Homo sapiens: one gene and its partners. The protein of the gene in region 4 interacts with the protein of the main gene of each other region in a pairwise test. Each region holds a gene or a part of one and is shown on either strand. Other genes may lie near its edges.

Region 1 (4,237 bases), on a different chromosome or scaffold from region 4:
GATACAACTCTGGGACTTGAGTGAAGTCAATATTGGACTTAGAGATTAAATGTTTAGATTAATAGGGTGTTTTGCACATTGTTAAAATGTTATTAACATTTTTTAGTACCTTTTCTGTGTCAAACCGTATCAGTTTCAAACAAAACTATCAGATGATCTCTGCTTTTTAGGTTCTGCATGGTCTCTGGAGGAACAGATTTCAGTCCTTTGGTAAAAGTGAAGCTAGAATATACATGGAATATGGATAGCTCACAGGAAGGGTTTTAGTCTAGCATGGGAGTTTAAAGGAGGCTTCCTGGAGGAGACACGATTACCTAAACTAAGTCTCGAAGGATGAATATGAGTTAGCTGCAGTAGTAAGTAGTAAAAGGAACAACAGTGAAATGGACTACAAGTAGTAGAGTGTTCTTAGAATATGACATTTGAGGTGAAGACTGACTTATGGTGAGGTTGGAGTGACAAGAACCAAGTAATGAAAGGCCGTGAACACCCTGTATTTAATAGGTTAAGGGATCATTTTGAGCAATGATGGGGTCAAATTAGGGTTTTAGAGATCACTGCCCAAAGATTGATTTGGGGGCAAGATTGAAGGCCAGGACACATGTTGGGAAACAGTTCTAGTAATCCAGGTGAGAGAATTAAGGCTGTAGCTCAGTGGTAATAGCTTACTTGGAAAATTGTAGTCATTTTTCTTAGTTTATGTAACATTTTGTTCCCTATTGTTCAGAATCCCATTGAGATTACATTTCATTGAATGGGGTTTATTATTTTGCAGAGATAAGTTATGTTAATTATCCAATCGTCTTTCATTCAATTATGTCTGTAGGAAGTTTATACTTTTACAAATACCTGCTTAACTAGTATGGTGCTACGTGGAGATGATAAATAAGTGTTTTTCATCATTTTAAAAATTGAGAAATGTTAGCCCTTTTGATGTGCTTAGTGATTATCTTAGAGGGAAAGAATTTTAGAACATTTTGCCTTTGTGTAAAAGCAATGATTTGTTAGCTTAATTTATATATAATTAACTTATAGGAATTTATAATTTATATGTGCTAATTTCTTTTTCTTTTTTTTAAAAGGCTATTAGTGAAAGATGGTGGATCGCTTGGCAAACAGTGAAGCAAATACTAGACGTATAAGTATAGTGGAAAACTGTTTTGGAGCAGCTGGTCAACCTTTAACTATACCTGGACGAGTTCTTATTGGAGAAGGAGTATTGACTAAGTTGTGCAGGAAAAAGCCCAAAGCAAGGCAGTTTTTCTTGTTTAATGATATTCTTGTATATGGCAATATTGTCATCCAGAAGAAAAAATATAACAAACAACATATTATTCCCCTGGAAAATGTCACTATTGATTCCATCAAAGATGAGGGAGACTTAAGGAATGGATGGCTAATCAAGACACCAACTAAATCTTTTGCAGTTTATGCTGCCACTGCTACGGAGAAATCAGAATGGATGAATCATATAAATAAATGTGTTACTGATTTACTCTCCAAAAGTGGGAAGACACCCAGTAATGAACATGCTGCTGTCTGGGTTCCTGACTCTGAGGCAACTGTATGTATGCGTTGTCAGAAAGCAAAATTCACACCTGTTAATCGTCGCCACCATTGCCGCAAATGTGGTTTTGTTGTCTGTGGGCCCTGCTCTGAAAAGAGATTTCTTCTTCCCAGCCAGTCCTCTAAGCCTGTGCGGATTTGTGACTTCTGCTATGACCTGCTTTCTGCTGGGGACATGGCCACATGCCAGCCTGCTAGATCAGACTCTTACAGCCAGTCATTGAAGTCTCCTTTAAATGATATGTCTGATGATGATGACGATGATGATAGCAGTGACTAAGGACACATTTGGGAGTATTTAATCAGGTGTGGCTATCTGAGAAATCAACTTTGGGGGAAATGTAAGATTCTGAGCTCTCTCTCTGTTTTGTTCTAGCCATGAATTTGCCTGAGAAACTTGTAACCTATGTGCCTCAATATATTCCATAGAAAGTAGGTCCCCCTGCCTTCTCCCACTCCTCACACTCTTCTACAGGGATAGGCTTTTGCAAATATATCAGATAAATTTTTTGTTTCTTGTTTATTTTTAGGTTATTTTCTTGGAAGGTTGGGAAAAGATGTTTGTTTTAACAGGTCATGTACTACGTTGTTGTTTTCATTTCTGTTATAAGTAAAACTAAAAGCACAGAATGGTGGGAAAGGGGCTATAATGTGGTTCATTAATAATGTTAGCAGCTTTTTTCTAACCATCCTGTCTAATGGTTAAGACACCAGTAACAAAAACACATGATTTGGAAATACTTTGGCTTTTTCATATACCTAGTGGTGCCTTATCATAATAGCACTGTTACATGAAATAAGCCCCTACCTTCTTACTTTCTGGTTTGTTGAAAAAATACACTGGTGCTCTTTGAAGTGATAAAATGAGTGTTTATGAATGGGTGTAATTAGGAAATACTTCTCATCTGACAGCTACAAATAACTAAGTTTGGAGGTATTTTCACTCTATATGAATAAATATTTTTCCATAAAATAGTTGTGATTATATTTTTGTTTTATATAGGTCCCAAATTATAATTGTCAAATATATATTTTAAATTAATAAAAGTTGTCATTCTTAGGAATTTGGTTTGAAATTTATCAGTTATACAGAATTGTCATACTGCATTAGCTTCTACCTTTAGTAAGACATATTTTTTAGGTATAAATTCTTATGCTTTAACATTATTTCTGGATTGAAAATCTTATAAAACCCTTGAAAATAAACAGTCTCTTTTTTACAAAGCCTGTGTTAGAGCACAGATTTACCTAGGCTTGAAGATTTGGAAGAAATAATATGTAAGAATGGCCTCAAGGCAGACCACTTTAAGTTTGGCTAGACTTCATATCGTGGAAGTATTGTCTATTTCAGTGTGAAACTATCTTGAATTTGCAAATATAGTGTTATATTTTATAAAGTTTTGTAAAATCCCAAACAATATTTCTATTTTTGTAAAACAATTGTATGTATAATCTGTATTTGAAATCATTTTGCAATCTATGGAAATAGAGTAGCAATTGCTATTTCTAAATTGTGAACTTTAAGTCAATCTAGATTTATTTTGAGAAGTAATTGTTCACTCTTTACTTTTGAGGCAGCCATTAGGTTGAAAGTATATATTTATCATATAAAACTTGATGCGTTTTGCACTACTCTTTCCATTTATATGCTGCAAACAACTACAGTCTTTGAAATATGGAAAATCAGCAGTCTAAAGTTTGTTTTAAATTCTAAATTTAAAAAATCTTCAAATCTGAATATACCGCAAATGTCATGAGAAGTTTGATTCAGTAACTTGTGATGGAGGATTCTTTGGTATCTTACTGTTTGGTTAAGGCACTAATTTTACTTACCTATTAGATTTTGAAAGTATCTGAGATATACAAATCTCCCTGTAGGAAATGTGAAAGAAAAGCACAACAAAACTAGGGTTTTTTGTTCATTTGCTTGCTTTTATGATTTTTTTTGGTTTGTTTTAATATCAGGTGGATTTTTGTTTCTAAGCAATATATACATAAAATCAACCAACATATCTGAAAAGGATCATGAAACCTGAGAAATGCTAATGGAGATTTGCTGGTACATAGGAATCTAGCAAATTCAGGAACCAAGGGGAAATGTTGTGAGATAACATTTACATTGTCAACCTTTATTGACTTTGTTTTTACAATAAAAAATATTTTACAACTTACTTTCTGTTCTCTGTATATTGTGACTTGAGGATTTACCCCCTCTGCTAAGATAATAAAGATATTATGCATATTTTGCCTAATAATTCAACAACTGTGAGTGCCTGCTATGTGCCAGGCATTGTTCTAGGCAGTAGGTTAGAGCAGTGAACAAAACTCCCTTTTGGATTTACCGCACGAAGGCTCAGAAAACATTCTTCCAAGTGTTGAAGATATGGCTTAATGTTACTGGGAAGTGCCTTAATATAATTTGGCTTTGCTGTCCAATTACTGTTAGAAGGAATGACTTGACCTGAATTGACATGTCTCAGAAGGAAACATACACATGGCTGACAGGTATATGAAGAAATGTCCAAGATCACTAATCATCAGGGAAATGCAAATTAAAACCACAATGAGATAATGGTAATACCTGATACCTGTTGAATGACTTATCAAAAAGATGAAAGAAGTGTTGGCAAGGATATGCAGAAAAGGAGACCCTTGCACACTGTTGGGAATG
Region 2 (4,536 bases), on a different chromosome or scaffold from region 4:
GCGTGGGCAAGAGAACCAGACTCTGTCTCAGACAAAGAAAGAAACAAACAAACAAACAGTTTAATTCTAGCTGCAGCATGGCAGATGGATAGGGGTAGGAAGAGGCAAGAATGCAAAATTAAATAAGCAAGCCACCAAGAAGGCTATTACAGTAGTCTGGGGGAAGCAGGATAGCTTAGACTAGGGTGGTGGTTATGGGCTTAGGGCGTGTTGGGAGGTAGAGTTGATAAGATGTGATGTGAGAGAAGAGACGAATCAATAACAATACCTGCCATCTTTGGGTGGGTAAATGGTAATGCTGTTTACTGAGAATACCTGCATCTTTGGGTGGGTAAATGGTAACGTTGTTTACTGAGATGGGGAAGATGAGGCAGGAGCACAGAGAATCAGGAGTTGGGTGTTGGCCTTGTGAAACCTGAGTTGGCAGTAAATTCCCAAGGGGAGTTGTCCAGGCAAGTTTTTGTGGCTATGAAGTCTGGAATTCCAGGGAAAGGCTGGGGTTGGAGAAATGGATTTAGAGTCACTGGTAGATACATGGGATTTGAAGTCATGGAGTAGACGAAGTCACCTAAGGAGAGTAGAAAGAGAAGGAAGCCTAGGACAGAGCCCTGGGCTAGCATCTAAAGGAGAAGTATAAGGAGGGACTGGTGAAGGAGTGCTATGGAAGCCAAGAAAAGCCAGAGGAGTCAAGTGAGACGAAAGCTGAGCAGTGACAACATGGAGGACATTGGTGACCTTGAGAGAAGCTGTCTCAGCAGTGAGCAGATGGTAGCGTGACTGAAGGGTGAAGGTGAGGTGGGGCGGTAGCAACAACAGACCACTCTTGTAATATTCCTGGGAAGGGAGTCAAGAACTGGGCAGAACTGGAGGCCAGTTTGGGGTCAAGGAAGATTTTTTTTTTTTTTTTGCCTTCTTGTTCTTTGAAGCTTGTAAGAATGGGCTTATGTTGCTGCTCGATGACTCCATGTTCCTAGGTGCTCAAGGAGCCTGGGGCATTGCCTAAGATGTGGCTGACATGGTCCAGAATCCATATGTGCTTTGGAGGTGGCCAGGAAGCCCATAGGAGGAGGGAATGCTCAGTGTGTGCCCTGAGAGCTTTGCCACTGTCAGAAAGCACCTGACAGGAACAAGTTTGATTGTATTTGACACATGCCGGCACTACCACAGAAAGTTTTAGCAACAGATAAGAGGGGACATCTGTACTCTCAACTTCTTTTTTCATACTTCCTATTGAAGTTTTCATCTCTACTCTCAGGCATTTAATTTCTAAGACTGCTGTTTATTTTTAATTGTCTTAAAAAATAGCATCCCATTCTTGTTTAACAGATGATATAGCTTCTTTTACCTCCTTGAGGAAGATATTAATAATAGTTTTTTAAAACTTTTCTTCTCACTGCACAATCTCTTTTCTTTGTCCTCCTTTTGTTCCTGTTTAAAATGATAGCCATTTATCTTTTTCTCAGGTGTCTGGTGATGTGTGGTTGTCTGGTCATGTTTAACAGTGGGATTTATAATGCCGATTGGAAGCTGTGAGCATATGGGTGGAGCTTCTGAACTTTTCTGCAGTGTGAGCTGGTGCATCAATTAATTGGGAACCCATAGGTCAGTATCTTCGACTGTGTTGTCTTGGGTTGTTCAGATTGTCTGGAGAAGACTCACCCACCCTTATTTCTGGAGGGATGAAGGCCTATAAACTCCGGAAACAAAGTAGAGATAGAGGGAATGTCTTAGAGCTTGTAGGTATGTGTTTATCTAATCCACATGTTTTCCAGACAGAACCTCCATCCTCAATTGTGCCTGATGTTTCACCTCCAGAGATTCTTTAGAAAATAAATGTCCAGGCCAGGTGGGGTGGTTCACACCTCTAATCCCAGCACTTTGGGAGGCTGAGGTGGGCGGATCACCTGAGGTCAGGAGTTCGAAACCAGACTGGCCAACATGATGAAACCCCGTCTCTACTAAAAATATAAAAATTAGCTGGGTGTGGTGGCAGGTGCCTGTGATCCCAGCTACTCAGGATGCTGAGGCAGGACAATCACTTGAACTGGGAGGCGGAGGTTGCGGTGAGCTGAGATTACGTCACTACACTCCAGCCTGGGTGACAGAGTGAGACTCTGTCTCACAAAAAAAAAGAAAAGAAAAGAAATGTCCAGTCTCTACTAGGGAAGGGCATTTTTCCAGAGGCAGGGAATAGGGGAGAGGGTCCAGGGATCTAATTTCTTATTATTATTTTTATTTTTTTTTAGTTTTGAGATGCAGTCTTAACTCTGTCGCCCAGGTTGGAGTGCAATGGCGTGATTTCAGCTCACTGCAACCTCTGCCTCTGGGGTTCAAGTGATTCTCCTGCCTCAGCCTCCCAGGTAGCTGGGATTACAGGTGCCTGCCATGACACCTGGCTAATTTTTGTATTTTTAGTAGAGACAGGGTTTCACCATGTTTTTCAGGCTGGTCTCGAACTCCTGACCTTAGGTGATCCACCTACCTTGGCCTCACAAAGTGCTGGGATTACAGGCGTGAGCCACCAAGCCTGGCCTTCTTCTTATTTTTAATATAAAGCCAGATTTGTTGAGTTATAATTTACATAGAACAAAATTCACTTGTTAGTAGACAATTGTATGAGTTGTGACATAAAACTATCTCAGCATATAACTCATATGCTGAGTTATGTGGTAAGTATGTGTTTAAATGTATAGGAAATTGCCAAATTGTTGTCTCAGGTGGTTGTACCATTTTATTTATTTTATTTTATTTTATTTTATTTTATTTTATTATTTTATTTTATTTTATTTTATTTTATTTTATTTTATTTTATTTTATTATTTTATTTTATTTTATTTTATTTTATTTATTTTATTTATTTTTGAGACAGAGTCTCGCTCTATTGCCCAGGCTGGAGTGCAGTGGCACGATCTCGGCTCACTGCAACCTCCACCTCGTGGGTTCAAGTGATTCTCCTGCCTCAGCCTCCCAAGTAGCTAGGATTACAGGCGTGCACCACCACACCCAGCTAATTTTTGTATTTTTAGTAGAGATGGGGTTTCACCATGGAGGCCAGGCTGGTCTCAAGTTCCTGACCTCAGGTGATCTGCCTGCCTCAGCCTCCCAAAGTGTTGGGATTACAGGCGTAAGCCACTGCGCCTGGCCTGGCAGTACCATTTTAAATTTTCACCACTAATCTATGAACATTCCAGTTGTTCCTCATTCTTGTCAACACTTGGTATTTTCAGATTTTTATTTTTTAATTTTAGCCATTCTAATAGGTATGGATTTAATTTCCATTTTTCTAATAGCCATGATGCTGAGCATCTTTTTGTGTGCTTGCCATTTGTGTATCTCCTTTGGTGAAGTGTCTTTTCAAACACTTTCCCTATTTTTATTGGGCTGTTGTGTTACTGAGTTTTCAGAGATGTATGTGTATTCTGGATTTAGGTCCTTTATCAGATACGTGTTTTGCAAATGTTTTGTCCTCATCTAGTGGCTTGTCTTTTCATTGTGACTGTCTTTTGAAGAGCAGATTTTTAAAATTTTGGTGTGGCTAATAAATTATTTAGTTGTATGGATTATGCTTTTGGTTTTGTGTCTAGGAAATTGTTACCTAATTCAAGGTCACAAAGATTTTTCTCCTGTTTTCTTCCAGAAGTTTTAAAATTTGGGGTTTTACATTTAGGTATGTTATTAATTTTTGTATAATTTTTGTATGTTAGGCAAGGTATAGATTGAAGTTCTTTGTTTTTGCATATGGATGTTCAATTTTTCCAGCACCATTTGTTGTAAAGGTTATTCTTTCTTGATTGAATTGAATGTATACCTTTGTTGAGAGTTCACAAAGCTGTGGTCTGTTTTTGGATCCTCTAATTTTATTTCACTTATCTCTTTGTCTGTCGCTCTGTCACTTGACCAGTACCACACTCTTTATGGCCATAAATGTTGAAATCTAGTACTGCAATTCCCCAACATTTCTCTTTCTCTAAATTGTTTTGTCTGGTCTAGTTCCTTTGTTTTTCCAAATAAATTTGAGAATTACTTGTTGATTTCTGCTAAAATTTCAACTTGGATTTTGGTTGGCATTGCATTGATTATATAGATGAATTTGAGGAGATTTGACATTTTAACAATATTGAGTCTTCTAGTCCATAAATATGGCATATTCTCTCCATCTATATGTCTGTGGATCCTTATATCTGTGTTTTGTTGTTTTCAGCATAGAAATCTTGCACATAGTTTCATGAGATTTATACTTAAGTGTTTCATGTTTTGGTGCTATTATATAATATATGGTAATTTTTAAAAAACATTAGATTTTTAATTTTTTGTTATAAGTATGTGGATACAATTGACCTTTGTATGTTGAATTTGTATTCTGTGACTTTGCTAAACTCAATTAGTTCTAATAACTTTTTTTCTAGTTTCTTTGGGATTTTCTGTATAGACAATCATATCATCTGCAAATAGAGACAGTTTCATTTCTGCCTTTCTAATCAATAAACCTTTTATTTCTTTTTCTTGCCTTACTGCACAGGCTAGGATCTCTAGTAT
Region 3 (4,158 bases), on a different chromosome or scaffold from region 4:
CAGTCAAATGACTCGCTCATGGTGGCAAGGGGAGAGAACCCTGTTAGGAGCACAAGGTGGAACTGGGGTCACACAGAGAGGCTGTGGCTTGGCTCCTGGCAAAGAGGCCTCTGCATTCAAAACACAGCCAAGAGACCCGGCATAGGAAATGCCAGTTCAGAGTAGGTGGGGATGGGGAAGGGGTGCTTCTGGGAAACCAGGAATCCCACATGTTTCTTTCTGTATTTAACTCGGGGTAGGAAGAGGTCAGGAAAAAAACCAGGAAGCAGAAGTTGTTTTCTTATCTAGGCCCTAGCAGATCTAGGGGGAGGGGGCTTTTCCTGGGTCAGTGACTCATTTCCTGTCCCAGCCAGCGTCTAGCCTCCACTGTCCCGACTGTCCCCAGCGTGGGAGAAGCAGGGGCAGGGAGCCACCCCACTCTACTCCTTATGAGCAGTACTCCCACCCTCTCCTGACTCCCAGGAAGGGACTTTAGGAATATGGATAAAGGAACCCTTAACCAGAGCTCTGGAGTACAGAACTTAGAGACGGGAATGGGCTGTGCCTGCCCCTCCTGATCCAGAAAACAGTGGAATGCTAGAGAGGTGCTGGACTAATGAATGGTAGAAGAGGCCAGTGTGAGAGGTTGGGCCTTCCCTCCCGGGGAATCAGCCAAGCAATGGGAACTTCAGAGGCTCAGCTTAGGTTCAAGCAGGAAGGAAATCCTGCAAGCTGGACACAGCCAGTCTTCCCTAGCTAGACCCTCTGCCCTCATCCCCCCACCCCCGCTGTGTCACACCAGCTTGGACAGCCTTGGCCTGTAACATCTGCAGCAGCTGTGGCGGCACAGATGGCCAGATGTCAGGTTTTGCCAGCAATGGGGAGAAAAAAGGAAAATGAAGTGTCGGGGGAGGCAGAGGGGAACTGGAGACAGACTGGGAGTGCAGTGTACCCCCTGCCACCTCCTGCTAACATCTGGCAAAACCCCAGGATCTTTCCATCCCCTGGGGTCATGATTTCCCTCCTACTGCCTCTGGGAGAGAAGGTCTCTCCCACCTTTTCCGATTTCTCAGGGTTTGGGACTAGGGAGCTGAAAGGAGAGAGAGCAAGAGCCACTGAAGACATTTTCTCCCCAATCAGGCCCCATCTTGGGTGGGGAGTAGGACAAGGGGGAGCCCTGAGAGCTGCTGCTGGAGACACCCAGCCCCCGACCAAACCTCAGACACTTTCCATTTTCTCAGGAACAAAGCATGTTTGTGGGATGAGGTCATCCACACAGCTGCCTCTGGAACAGGAGCCTAGGGAGTGGAGCGGTAGGGAAGTGGGGTTCCCAGACCTTTCTGCTGCCCCGGATTCCAGTCTCTAGCCCCAAAGTCAGAGCTCCCACCCCTGCTCTCCTCCATCATGAAGGCTGCTCTCTAAGGGCTGGGATCCTGGGGTAGTGGAGAGGAACCACCAGGACCCATAGGAAGGAGATGTTCTCACAGCTGTGGATGAGCCCGGGGAAGTTACAGGGACACACAAAGGAATCCACCAACCCACTCTCCCACAAGGCTCCAGTGCTGGCAGTCGCCAGGGCCTGCCCTGGCTCAAGCTGAAGGAGAAGTCCTCCTTTTCTCATCCACCCCCAGTGCGAAATTCTTGACAACAAGCGCTGCTCTGGCTTGAAGTTCAGACTCCAGGCACCAGCAGATGCCCCCAGCTTGGAGGCCTGACTCTCCATACATCAAGCCTCTGCGCAATGGGAGAACAGCCAGCTTGCGCTCCAGGCCAGGGCATGAGGCCACCAGGGGCCAGGGTCTTTAGAGCTGGAACTCCTGGGCTGGGGGCTATGGTGTAGAGAAGATACTCCTCTTTCTCAGCCCCCTTCCTGCCACTCAGGCCCAGGTTTCCTCTGGCCCAACATCTGAGGATTGCCTGGGCTGTCAGCCACGGGGCAGCAGGGGGCCACACAGGTGGAATGCGTCCACAGGGGGTGCCTGGGCCTCTTCCTTCCTTCTTGGCTTGGCCCACTGCGGCTGCCACCTTCTCAGGCCCAGGCTAGACTTGGGTCCACCCCCTGAGAGACAGTCAGCACTCCGAAACCAGGGCAACCCAAATAGGGTATGGGCATGGCTTCTATTTCCTTCCCAGAATCCCCCAATGCCCTAGTCTATCCAGCTGGGCTCTGGTGAGGACAGAGTAAAGGGCACCAACAAGGCCCACCTGTCTCTGCCCATACCCCTCTCCCTGCCCTTTTCCCTGGCAAGGCTGGGGACTGCGGGGACTGAAGGGAGCCAGCCTTGTATTCCTTCCTGACCGGCAGTGGGGCGGGGTTTGGGGGAGACTGCTCCTCTACAGATGGCTCACAACCCTGCACCTCCAACAATCTCCCCTCACAAGGCACCTCCCAGTGAACCTCCTGGAGCTCAGAATGACTGCGTAACTGGCTATGGTGTATGGAGCAGCTCAAGCTGTAAGGTTTGAATCCTGGCTCCTGCACTTACTGGCTGAGTGATCTTGGGCAAATCCCTAAGCCTGTTTTCCCATCTAATTAAATGAGATACTACCACTTCCTACCTCCTAAGTTTGTTGTCAGGCTTAAATGTGATGATACTTGTAAAGCACCTGGCAGATAATAAATACTCAGAAAATGGTAGCTATTAGTATTTTACTATTAGCGCCCTCACTCATACTGGGGCCAGATAGCAGTTTCACAGGCAGGTCTGGGTCAAGCAGCTGGACTGGAATTTTTTTTTTTTTTTTGAGACAGAGTCTCGCTCTGTCGCCCAGGCTGGGGTACAGTGGCGCAATCTCGGCTCACTGCAACCTCCACCTCCCGGGTTCAAGTGATTCTCCTCCCTCAGCCTCCCGAGTAGCTGGGACTACAGGCACCTGCTACCACGCCCGGCTAATTTTTTGTATTTTTAGTAGAGACGGGGTTTCACTGTGTTAGTCAGGATGGTCTCGAACTCCTGACCTCATGATCTCCCTGCCTCAGCCTCCCAAAGTGCTGGGATTACAGGCATGAACCACCACACCCTGCCTGGACTAGAATTTTTAAATAGAGATGGGGTCTCAATATGCTGCGCAGGCTGGTCTCAAACTCCTGGGCTCAAGCTATCCTCTTGCCTTGGGTTCCCAAAGTGCTGGGATTACAGGCATGAGCCACAGTGCCAGCCCAATTTTTTTTTTTTTTTTTTTTTTGAGACAGGGTCTCACTCTGTCACCCAGACTGGAGCGCAGTTAACTCCATCTCGGCTCACTGCAATCTCCACCTCCCAGGTTCAAGCGATTCTTCTGCCTCAGCCTCCCAAGTAGCTGGGATTACAGGAGGGCACCACCATGCCCAGCTAATTTTTGTATTTTTAGTAGAGATGGAGAGTTTCGCCATGTTGGCCAAGCTGGTGTCCGCTCAGCCTTTTTGTTTTTTTTTTTTGTTTTGAGTTGGGGTCTCACTCTGTTGCCAGGGCTGGAGTGCAGTGGCACGATCATGGCTCACGGCAGCCTCGAACTTCTGTGCTCAGCCAGGTGAGGTGGCTCACACCTGTAATCCCAGCACTTTGGGAGGTTAAGGCCGGTGGATCACCTGAGGTCAGGAGTTCAAGACCAGCCTGGCCAACATGGTGAAAACCCATCTCCACTAAAAATACAAAAATTAACTAGGCATGGTGGCGGGCGCCTGTAAGCCCAGCTACTCAGGAGGCTGAGGCAGGAGAATTGCTTGAACCGAGGAGGTGAAGGTTGCAGTGAGCCAAGATCATGTCATTACACTCCAGCCTGGGCTACAACAGCAAAACTCTGTCTCAAAACAAAACAAAACAACAACAAAAAAAACAACTCTGGGCTCAAGCAAACCACCTGCCTCAGCCTCCTGAGTAGATGGGACTACAGCCATGTGCCACCATGCCCAGCTAGGTTTTTCTATTTTTTGTAGAGATGGGGTTCTCACTATGTTGCCCAGGGTGGTCTTGAACTCCTGGCTTCAAGTGATCCTCTGGCCTCAGCCTTCCAAAGTGCTGGGGTTACAGGCGTGAGCCACTGTGCCCAGCCTGGTCTGAAATTTGACCTGGACATTCTCAGCATAGGCCCAGGGAGAGAATAGGGGGCCCCAGGCCCATGGGGCTTGCTGAGGACACCAGTGGGGAAAGTGGTCGCTTCAGTCCGGTCAGCCTGACTCTAGTAAGCTTAACTCTTGAG
Region 4 (4,861 bases):
TCTTGGCTTAGGTGCTGTGGTACATTATCATTATTGCTTGTTAAATGTGGGTAAACTTTTGCAATGAAGATGCCTTTAAAATACATTTGTCCTAGATAGGTCCAGACATCAGCACTTCATTGCCACATAAAATGTCCTGGACATGTCTTTAGAATCAGGGGGCAAACTGCTCTCCCTTCTACTCCCTTTCTTCCTTATATAAACATTAATGTTTAAATATAACCCTAACAAGAAGCCATATTTCCCTTTTTTTTTTTTTTTTTTTGAGACAAGGTCTGGCTCTATGGCCCAGGCTAGAGTACAGTGGTACAATCTCTGTCCACTGCAACTTTTGCTTCCCCAGCTCAAGCCATCCTCCCACCTCAGCCTCCCAAGTAGCTGGGACTACAGGTACATGCCACCACACCTGGCTAATTTTTGTATTTTTTGTAGAGACAAAAATACAAAAGCTGGTCTCAAACTCATGAGTTCAAGCGATCTGCCTGCCTCGGCCTCCCAAAGTGCTGGGATTATAAGCATGAGCCACCATGCCTGGCCCGTATTTAAACACTCTAGTATGTAACTATGTCAATTAAATACATAGTAGTCCAACTAATACAGGGGATTTTTTCTCCTCAAAGGTTTTTCATGTCAAAAGTGCCCAGTGGAATTAAAAATGAGAAGGCTCTTTTACATATCTCCCTTCTCTTGGGAACCCATTCAAGGGTGGGGAGCATCTCAGGCTGAGAGAACTTGCCCTTCTCCCTCCGAGGACCGAAGAACCTTTTAAGACTTATTCCTGCACTGGGAGCTCTCTCTGCATCCTTGTCATGTAGAGGCTTTTATTTATTTGCTTATTTACTTTCCCTTCCACATTTGTAAGTTTATTGTCTGACCTAAGCAGTCATCTTACCTTTCAAGCACTTTGAAAAATGGAAACAGTAAGTCAGAGAAGTGGTTGGTGTGAGCACCACTGAATGTTACTGTTTGAAACTTCTCTCTAAAAAAAAAAATCTGAGCAAGAAGTTTGTCATATACAGCACCTCAAGAATGTTTTTAAAACGAAAGAAAAAAGCCCTGGTTTTCAATGTTTTGCCTCAAACCAGAATGGCATGGTCTCCAAGTAAGAATGAAGGAATGCACGTCTATATTCTGAATGCAAGGCTACTGAATTTCATTAATAGAAGCAGTAGTTTTCATGGACTGCATACTTCCTATGTCAGGTACTGGGCTAAGCACTTTCCTTGCTTCCCACACTCAACTATACATTGTTGGGAGTTTTCCATTTTTACTTTGTTTTCAATGGGATTCTCCACTAAAATATCTGCTTATCTAGGACTCACGGGTAGGTAACTTGGACAATACATGGAAAGCACATTCTCTTACACATAGTAGGCACTCAGTAAGTATCTGTTGAATAAGTGAATGGATGGAGAGAATTAACTCCATTTTGAACAAATTATCTTTCTGAATGCAACCCTAAAACTTTGCCATTCATATTTCTCAGGAATGTCTCATTTAACTGATAATTTGATTCCTGGCCCATGCGTTAGTAAAAGTCATTTTTACATCAAGTTTCTATTTTTAGAGATCCTCTTTCCACAAGTAGAAATGACATAAACCACGCTCGTCTCCTTAGTTTATTTTTTTCTAGAGTCCTTAACATGCTACATTAACCTGACAAAGCTTAATCTTGTGTTCGTTTCACAATACATTTCATGCAGTTCACAGCTGTGATTGGTTTTACATTGACATTACACATGTTTCGATTCAGCCATGTGAAAAGAGTAATTCTTAATGGGGTTTGTCTCTGAAAACTGTCCAAGCTTAAATAAGCATATGAGCAGTTCACTCTATTCTTAAGTGCATCTCTCTTTAAAATGCAAGGATTTTTAGTGTAAGAATATAATGTCCCTGTTTATAGTCCATTTGCAACAGAACCACTTCCTTTAGGTTTCACATATCCTGAGGAATCCACTTTTACAAAATTGCATTCAAGTATATTATTTCATTTAACATTCCAGGTTGGGTTTAGGTGCAAGGCTGACCTTCAGCTTTACATCCCCAAATAAATCTTCCACGGACCCAGCCTTCCCAAGACTATTCTTAACATTAGACTCTCTTTTACAATAAACATTCAGCACTAAAGCCACAGAACAGAGCTATTTGGCATTTTCCAGTGAAGTGCAAGAAGTTAAATAAGTTATGTTTTTATTGCTAATGTATAGAATCAAGCACAGTCACTTTGTCAAACAGAAGGAAAGGGCATACACAAGATGTGGCCTCTCCTCAGATGCCTCAGGGTCAAAACGCACAGAAAATGTCACCTGGCCACCACCCATCCAGCACCACTTTAAGATGATGTGTTGAGTGTTCTAGAGTCTGAGGAGTCAGACCTCTCGTCATAGTCGTCCTCGGTGTAAATGGACTGCTTTGACACAAATGGACACCCATCATCAGGGATGGAAATCCGAGGGTCTTCCGTGGCGCGGGCAGGAAGGACGGGCGAGCTTCTGAAGACGCTGGTAGAGTTACTGGGGAAAGGACTGACATACTGGGACCTCAGCTGATACTGCTGCTGCAGCGTCATGGTGTTCCACAGGGTGACATCATTGGGCAAAAAGGGGCTCGACTGGCTTCTCGCCAAAGTATTCCTCAGCATCAGCGGGTACCGGGGTGGCTGGGGGAAAGGGGGCTGCAGAGGCCCAGCCAAGGGACTGGGGACAACGTTGCTAGAGTCGGCAGAAAACCTCAACGTGTCTGGGACTCGAAAGGCTGATCCCACAGACCATTTGGAAGACGAGATGGGGTAGGAGCTCAAGGTGTGTTCAAAGATGTGCCCATTGGAGGGCAACGCTAGACTCTCAGGTTCTGCGGAAGTTCGCTCTGCTCCCGTGACTGAGGATCGGCTGGACAGAAGGACTTCCACGGCGCTCACCAGGTCCCCGCCACAGCCCTTGAGGATGAGCTCAAGCACCGTTGGCTTCTGGTTGGGGAATATCTTTTTTAACACTTCAAGCGGCGGTCTGTTGGCTTTCAAGCTGAAGGGCAGAGAAACAGTCCCCGAGGGGCCCTCAATCAGGAGGTGATTCTGCTCCGCGTGACACTTGGGGCTGTCAGGGCGGCTCTCGGGGTTGCCTCCGTTTTTCTGGACAGCGTATCCCCCTTCCTCCACGGACACTATCTCAGGGCTCTCAGGGGTGAAGCAGCCCTTACTCTTTGCCACATCTGGGGAACTCCTCTGGTCAGTGTCTTTGTCACTGAAGACCTCTGTATTGTCTGCCGACTTGCCGTCTCCAAGTCGTTCTTCAGTCAAATCTGGAAAACAGAACAGCTGAGTTAATCTTTTCCTGGTGTGCATAAAGAGGAGCAGATGTGCTCAGAAGAGACCTGTACACGTGCTTTTTGGAAGAGCAAATGCATCTCAATGGGTCATAATATACTACAAGCCTTTTTAAAAAAATTCGAACTATATCACTGGCAAATGAAACAAAAACCCTGTAAATAAAGATCTAGAAATCAGAGTGGCTTCCTGGAATGCTTTGTGCAAGGAAGCTTGCCTTCAACATAGAATGGCTACATGAACCTGTAACATATGGCTTTCATAGCAGTAACAATCTCAATAGAGAGCCTCTTTGGGAGGAGGGGTGGGGGACTCCTGGAAGAGCAAAGCTCAGGGAGAAACAGGAAAATCAGCTCAGCTTGTCTTCCGGCTCCTCTTCTGCAAATAAGGTCCCCAGCTGTTATCTAGGGATAGTACCATCCAGATACCCACAGGGAATTTTAATATCTGAAATCTATTTTCCCATAGGCTGATTTTGTGTTAAATATGTCTTATGAACCAATCAGTAAGTTGCATCAGGTTACCATATACAATAGCTAGCTAATTCAATTGCTGAAGTGAAAGATACCTCTATCCATTGAAATCTTTCATAAGAAGCCACTTGAGGCATTGGCAAACTTGGTTGCCAATAACTTGTACTAGAAAGCAAACGAAACCAGCTATGAATTCCGGATGGCAGGATAAGTTGCTGGAGAGGAAAAAAGGAAGTGGCTAGAAAGGGTTTGTTAAATTGCACGGGGGCATTATTATCCATCAATGAAACAACGCATCACACTCCACCGCCACGGGTGGCACGAGGCAGATACCTGTGCATGAACTGTTTTGCTGGTACAGTTCATGGAAAGGACTTGAAGATACCTTTTTTTAAAGCCAGTGAAATTTGAAGATACCTTTTTATATTATATGAAAAGAAGAAGGAGGGAAAAAAAGGCTTCCCAAATAAAGCAGAGACTTGCGATAAAGTAAACCAGTTGCAAATTTAACATCTTGACCTAAGAACATTTTTACTTAACAGCTGGTAATATTGCAGGGCTAAGCACACAGAAAAGAGTAAGTCAGAGTGGTTTGCTTTGCAGTAGTAAATTCCAACAGGACTTTATAATAAAGAAACATATTTTTTAGTAGCAAGCTATTTGCAAATAGAGTTTTGTCCTTTTTTGAAACACGCGCTGGCTGTGGCTACTCAAAGCCAGGGTAGCTGATCGAAAGATGAAAATTCCTAATGACCCAGTTGTTGAGTTGTAAACAATTGCTTTGCCTGTGTTTTCTGCTGCCCTGCCTGAATAGCTTCATTGTTGCCTTCTCTGTGGGCACACCTGATTATATACAGATAGCCAGCCGGTGAAATTTCATCAAAGCACCCTCTAGAAACAATCTTCTCCTACACTTGTCATTTTAAAAGCCTTAAGGGCCTACTTATGAACATTCTTCTAATACAGGTGTATCTTAAGTGTAACCAAAAAACAAAACTTTGTGAAATTTCATCAAAGCACCTTCTAGAAACCATCTTCTCCTACACTTGTTATTTATTTTAAAAGC

Evidence for each region. The genes of interacting proteins can lie anywhere in the genome.
Region 1: the proteins of DMRT3 (region 4) and PLEKHF2 interact in binary tests that used the Homo sapiens proteins (3 or more experiments, as listed by UniProt).
Region 2: the proteins of DMRT3 (region 4) and HSF2BP interact in binary tests that used the Homo sapiens proteins (3 or more experiments, as listed by UniProt).
Region 3: the proteins of DMRT3 (region 4) and FHL3 interact in binary tests that used the Homo sapiens proteins (3 or more experiments, as listed by UniProt).

What each region holds. Positions count from the first base shown.
Region 1 is NC_000008.11:95,152,949-95,157,185, forward strand, and holds the end of PLEKHF2 (pleckstrin homology domain-containing family F member 2), read left to right. Parts: intron 1-1,082; 5' UTR 1,083-1,096; coding exon 1,097-1,846; 3' UTR 1,847-3,737; downstream 3,738-4,237. UniProt on the Homo sapiens protein: May play a role in early endosome fusion upstream of RAB5, hence regulating receptor trafficking and fluid-phase transport. Enhances cellular sensitivity to TNF-induced apoptosis.
Region 2 is NC_000021.9:43,533,989-43,538,524, reverse strand, and holds part of HSF2BP (heat shock factor 2-binding protein), read left to right. Parts: intron 1-4,536. UniProt on the Homo sapiens protein: Meiotic recombination factor component of recombination bridges involved in meiotic double-strand break repair.
Region 3 is NC_000001.11:37,999,393-38,003,550, forward strand, and holds part of FHL3 (four and a half LIM domains protein 3), read right to left. Parts: intron 41-4,158; 5' UTR 21-40; coding exon 1-20. UniProt on the Homo sapiens protein: Recruited by SOX15 to FOXK1 promoters where it acts as a transcriptional coactivator of FOXK1.
Region 4 is NC_000009.12:988,477-993,337, reverse strand, and holds the end of DMRT3 (doublesex- and mab-3-related transcription factor 3), read right to left. Parts: intron 3,298-4,861; coding exon 2,333-3,297; 3' UTR 1,606-2,332; downstream 1-1,605. UniProt on the Homo sapiens protein: Probable transcription factor that plays a role in configuring the spinal circuits controlling stride in vertebrates.